Linked DNA regions of Homo sapiens: region 1 is linked to region 2. The links come from fine-mapping of genetic effects on gene expression. A gene starts in region 2. The other region holds a variant in brackets. All regions are shown on one strand. Distances are between the middles of the regions.

Region 1 (2,923 bases), 21 kb after region 2:
CCTATATAATCTTCAGATTTTCAATATCTTTTCTCAATATCCTAGAATTCACCCAGGTAATCTTACTGGGTGAAATAGGGCAAGAACTATAACTGGGCTGACACAAATAAAAAATACACGAGTGAAATGTATCATTTAGTACTAGAAATTTTCCACAGAGAAGTTCCTTACAGAATTGTTTATAGTAGGAAAAAACAGATATAACCTAAATATATGAGTATAGGGGATTCGTTAATTTATGACAAACTCATGAGATGGAATAGATGTGTTAATTAGCTTGATTTAGTCACTCCACAATGTATCTATATATCAAAGCATCATGTTGGACATCATACATATATACAATTTTTATTTCTCAATGAATAAAAGAATATTTTTTAAAAATGAAACTGTCTGTTTCAGAAACACCTTGTCAGTACTGGGAATTATCCAACTTTTATTTTTGTTCATATGAAAGGTAAAAAATGGAATACTATTATTTTAATGTGTTCTACAATTGTGAGGGAGCCTATCAATAACGATGTGCTACATTACATTGCCGTAACAAATGGTCCCCAAATCTGGGCAACTTAAAATAACCAAAATACCCAGAACTTTGGGAGGCTAAGGTAGGCAAATAGCTTGTGGCCAGGAGTTTGAGACCAGCCTGGCCAAAATGGCTAAACCCCATCTCTACTAAAAACACAAAAATTAGCCAGGAATGGTGGCGCACAGCTATAATCCCAGCTACTCGAGTGGCTGAGGCAAGAGAATCACTTGAACCCAGGATGTAGAGGTTGCAGTAAACCAAGATTGCGCCACTACATTCCAGCCTGGACAACATAGTGAGACTCTGTCTCAAAAAAAAATCACAAAAATATATTTGTTGTTCATATTACATGTCTAACACGTCTGTTGGGAGCTTTACTCATGAGGATTAAACGCAACAGTTATGATCTGAAACATTGCTGGCTACCATGACGTAGGAAAAGACCGATCATGACAAATCTCACAGCGGCTCTTAAAAGTTTCCTGCCAGAACTGACAAAAATCTTTTTGAATATTGTATTGACCGAAGCAACTTACATGGCCATTGTTGTGCTCAAAGGTGTAGGGAAGTGCAAGGCTAAGAGTCTGAAAATTGGACTGCAGGAAATCTTGGTTAACAATAGTAATAATTAACAAAAGTCCCAAATCTATTTGTTGAGTACTACAAACCTTTTTTCTTTCCTGTGAACTAATTATTTACTTACTCAGCTTTCCATTGGGATATTCACTCCATTGATTTATATTATGTCTTTGTTAACTCACAAAATGAGCCTGTAGATTGCCATATCTGTTGTAACTAGTGTTTCCAGTATATGCTGTTTTTTGACTTGTTTATAATATTTTATTTTATTGTAATATTTATTATTTATTTTATTATTTTTTATTTATTTATTTTTT[C/T]GAGACAGAGTCTCGCTTTGTCACCCAGGCTGGAGTGCAGTGGCACAATCTCAGTTCACTGCAAGTTCCGCCTCCCGGGTTCACGCCATTCTCCTGCCTCAGCCTCCTGAGTAGCTAGGAATACAGGTGCCCGCCACCGTGCCCAGCTAATTTTTTTGTATTTTTAGTAGAGATGGGGTTTCACCGTGTTAGCCAGGATGGTCTCGATCTCCTGACCTCGTGATCTGCCCGCCTCAGCCTCCCAAAGTGCTGGGATTACAAGCGTGAGCCACTGTGCCCAGCCTGTTTAAAATACTTTAAAACAGCTTTATTAAAATACAATTCATATACCATGCAATTCACCAATTCAAAATGTACAATTCAAAGACTTTAATACACTTAGAGTTGTGCATTCATCACCAAAATTAATTTTGTAACATTTTTAAGCCCAAGAAGATACTCTCTGTCCCTTAGTTGTCAGATTGCATTGCCCTAACCCCCAAACCAGAGGCAACAATTCATCTGTCTCTATAAATTTGTCTATTTTGGATTTTTCATATAAAAGGAATCATTTAATATGTAGTTGTTGTGATTTTTATTGTTATGATTTTTTTTCTAATTTGGTCTTGAGGTCTCTGTCTGGAGAGTGGCTATAAATTCCAGCCCTGCGCTGAATGGGGCTCTAAGGAAGGTGGTCTTCAATGTTTACAGTGTGCTTTTCACAGGATACTTCGTCCTGGCAGACAGCCTAATGCCTAAGTGTCCAACCTATGACCAGGTGTCCCTCTCACTGAAAACTTGTTTATACTGGCAGATACCCTTGTGGCTCTTGTTTGACCTGTGTCCAGTTTATCCCTGCTAAGACAGCCACTTGCAAGGAGAGCCCTGACCAGGAGGATAGTTAGGTTTGGTTGTGTAAGTCAAATGAGGCACAGAGAAGACAGCACAACGAAACACATGAAATGCAAAATATTTTTATTACTCAGATCTACAAGAGAAGAGGGTTGCCCACAAGGGCTGATGAGAAGTCTGAAGACAGCAGGATGCGTAACCAATGGGTGTTGAGTGGGACAGACCTGCAGGCTGGGCCTTTATTGTGATCAAAGCCATTACCCAAACATGTTTCCTATGAGGAGTTCAAACTGGTGAGTTTGAAGCAAGTAGGGATGAGTTCCAGGAGGTCACACCATCACTGAGAGGTGATCACTGTGGCATATTTGCATTGTCCATGTTGGGTATGAGGGTCAGTGGGGCAAGTCAAGTAGGTTATATCTCTCTGTCCGAGAGGGTGGTGGATATCTGTTGTGTAAGGCAGATATCTGGATTGACCACATTGAAAAAGTGGGAGGAAGTGGAGAATTAGGTGATTAGGCCCTGCCTTTGGTATGAGAAAGTTAGAAGGTTAACCCTATATCTAGGGTGGATGCCAGAGCAACATGAAATTATAGGAATTGACTACAATGGTTCTTTGTGACTTCTTTCACTTAGCATAAGGCTCTTCCCTGCTGTAGCATTTATT
Region 2 (2,923 bases):
GGGCCCTTATAGCAAATTATTGAACCTGAGGAGGGGGTTGTGGGAACTTCCAACTAGTAGCTAAGTCAGACAGAAGTGTGGGTGACATGGAGATCCATTACTTGTGACTGTTGTCTGAAGTGAGGGAGGGCAGTCTTATGGGAATGAGCCCTTAACCAGAGAGGTCTGCACTAACTCTGGGTAGTATCAGAATTGAATTAAATTGTAGAATACCTAGCTGATGTCCTCAAAGAATAAGAGAATTGCTTGGTGTGAAAAATCCACACATTCTGTGCCAGAAGTATTGTGGGTAGAGGAACCATTTTCTTTCACTTGGTACCCAGTGGGTGCATGGGGTAGGGGGAAAGGAGGATACTCGATGTGAAAGAGGACAAGGACTTACCATGGGGCTGCTACCTAGGATGGGACCAAAGAAACACATCCTAAGGAATGAGCAGAGATCACAACACAAGAGAGCAAAGGGTATGCAGAGGGAAACTTAGGAGACTATCCATGAAGCAGTTTCTGTAGGTGGTCCCCAGAAAGACCCTCCTCTGAGGCCCAAGACAGCAGGGAGAGAGAGCTCACACGGAGTAGCAACCCACTTTGTGTCCCTCAATGGGAATGAGATCCTGCTGCATGGGGCTGAGATCCAGGAATCCCCTTGGGGGTCGAGAAGCTTGGAGTATCCTAATGAGAAATCCTAGGTGAAGGGCCCACAGCATCTAGGTTTCCTCCCCTCGAGTCTATGTCTCCTCCTCCTTTTCCTAGAACTGCCGGGATTGAGGTTCATTCCTCTCTTGCATCCCCAGCCAGCTGGAGCCTTGGAGCAAAAGGCAGATGTATGTGTTCTCTTCTGCCCTCCTCCACCCTCCGCCAGTTTTGAGCTGGTATCAGCCATCCCCACTGCCTGAATACTGCCAGTAAGAAGACAGAGAGTAGAATGAGTGCGGACGCATAGCTCACGGTTCCCATCCCCACCCCTGCCTTTCCTGATCCAGCACCACAGGTGTTCACGAATTGTCACTTCACCATTTCCCCGCTCTGGGCTCCCCTGAAGCCAACTCCATCCATATGCCCACCTCCCCCACCCACACATACAAACACAGGGCACTGGGCTGGGAGCCTTGGGATGAGGGGTCAAGGGTGTTCAAAAGGCAGGAGGGAGCAGGCGGATCTGAGGCATTACCTGCACCCGCATCTAGTCTCAGTCACCACCTCTCAGGGATGCCATCTGCCGTCCTTGCACCCACCTCCTCCAACAGCAACCGCTGCTCCTCTCCACGAACGCGTCGGGCAGGTAGACTCTCTGCTTCTTGAGCTCCTGGACAAAAGACAGACGGGCTAAGACGCTCCCGGTTGGCTGACGGATTGTTTCCTTTACCAACAAATGCTGTAGTTCCAGTCGCCTGAGAAATTAGTTTTCAGGCTGATGCAGCATGGAAAGACACCTACCTACCTTAACATCCCGCCGTTCCTCCCACGTTCTGCTCTGCGGAGCACAGGTGTCGTCCGCCTCTCAGGTCTTTTCTGGATGCAAGAAAACACTCCTCTCGGCAGGCCTAATGCAGAGCCTGGTCACATGACCCACCGTCAGCCCCACGTGACTGCGCAGTCAGCTTGTTCGCCGCAGTCCTGTACCATGGATGACAGTCTTCTGCCTCTGGGGTGCTTGCTAGAAGATCCTGAAGCTCCTTGGCCAGACAGCTGGAAGGAAGGCTGGCCTTTGCTCTGGAGGACCACTCGGCTGGCGAGGAACATTCGATGAGGATTTGGGAAATGAAGTGATTTTTAATATTTTGTATACGACTCAAGCGACATACTAAAACACACACAGATCTGTCTTGAAAAATGCTGGTAAGCAAAACAAACATTCAAACTCCAATTTGCACCACCAGGATAATCCCTGTTAAAACTTATGGCTTGCGATGGGAGGCAAAACTGCCACTTCCATATTACCTTACCAAACTAGGATCAGGTGGGGAAAAAAAGCATGTTGCACTGTCAGAAAAATTATACCAAACTTAGATAAAGTCACCTTCAGTTACTGGATGTCATTTCAGGGCAGTGCAGGATGTCTATTGATTTACCTATTTTTCAACTCTGTAGACACTGATGTTAACATGTAGATATTTTATTCAATAAATATGTAAATGATTTATGTCCAGTGCAATAGAAAACCTTAAATGTTACAATTTATTGCCCTGTAAGATATTAACCCGTTTTATATTTAACCTGGCAGTGTTATTCTAACATTTATTAATTTCCTATGTGTTTATGAAATTCAATGTTTTGTTTATATCTTCATATTGTGTATATTGTATATACACATATACCCTTCAACTGTTTTCTTAATCCTAGCAGTTGTTGATTGTGTTGAAAAATCTTTCACATATTCTTTTTACATTTACATGAATTGTAATTTTACCTTTGAAAATTTAGAACATTCTCAGACAAATAAATGTTATGTCTAAAAATAATAAAACATTGGATATTTCTCGTACGTCTGAATTTCCTCTCCAAACCAACATATAGCCCTGTCTTCCAATTCTCCTGACTGAAGGTATTGTGTGGTCATTTTTTAAATTATCGTGGCAAAATACACATAACATAAAATTTAACATTTTAACCATTTTAAAGTATACAACCCAGTACATTATCAATGTTGTACAACCATCACCACTATCTAGCTCCAGAACTTTGTTGTCACCTCAAAAGGAAATGTTATGTTTTTTACGGTAATAATTATGTGAAAAAGGTGCCATTTTTGTACCATGAACAGACTAATATTAAACTTAACACCCTTGGTAATTTTTTTTTTTTTTGAGACGGAGTTCTGCTCTGTCACCCAGGCTGTAGTGCAGTGGTGCGACCTCAGCTGACTGCAACTTCTGCCCCCCAGGCTCAAGCGACTCTCCTGCCTCAGCCTCCCCAGTAGCTGGGA

Evidence for each region. PIP is the estimated chance that this variant, and not a neighbour inherited with it, causes the effect. A credible set is the group of variants that fine-mapping cannot tell apart.
Region 1: its variant is the best candidate, but not a certain one, in a credible set for the expression of GPRASP3 in lung (TOPMed, PIP 0.53).

What each region holds. Positions count from the first base shown.
Region 1 is chrX:102,697,903-102,700,825 of GRCh38, reverse strand. All of the region lies in intron 4 of ARMCX5-GPRASP2 (ARMCX5-GPRASP2 readthrough), which reads right to left. Among named protein-coding and RNA genes, the nearest start is that of GPRASP2, 13 kb to the left of the region's middle. The variant C/T (reference allele first, on the strand shown) is at 1,426.
Region 2 is chrX:102,719,337-102,722,259 of GRCh38, reverse strand. GPRASP3 (G protein-coupled receptor associated sorting protein family member 3) reads right to left here and starts at 1,517. Exons shown (of 4, transcript NM_001142524.2): 1 at 1,435-1,517; 2 at 1,169-1,303. It overlaps ARMCX5-GPRASP2 (ARMCX5-GPRASP2 readthrough), which reads right to left. Exons shown (of 19, transcript NR_146584.3): 7 at 1,439-1,726; 8 at 1,169-1,303. RefSeq lists an enhancer at 1,651-1,710.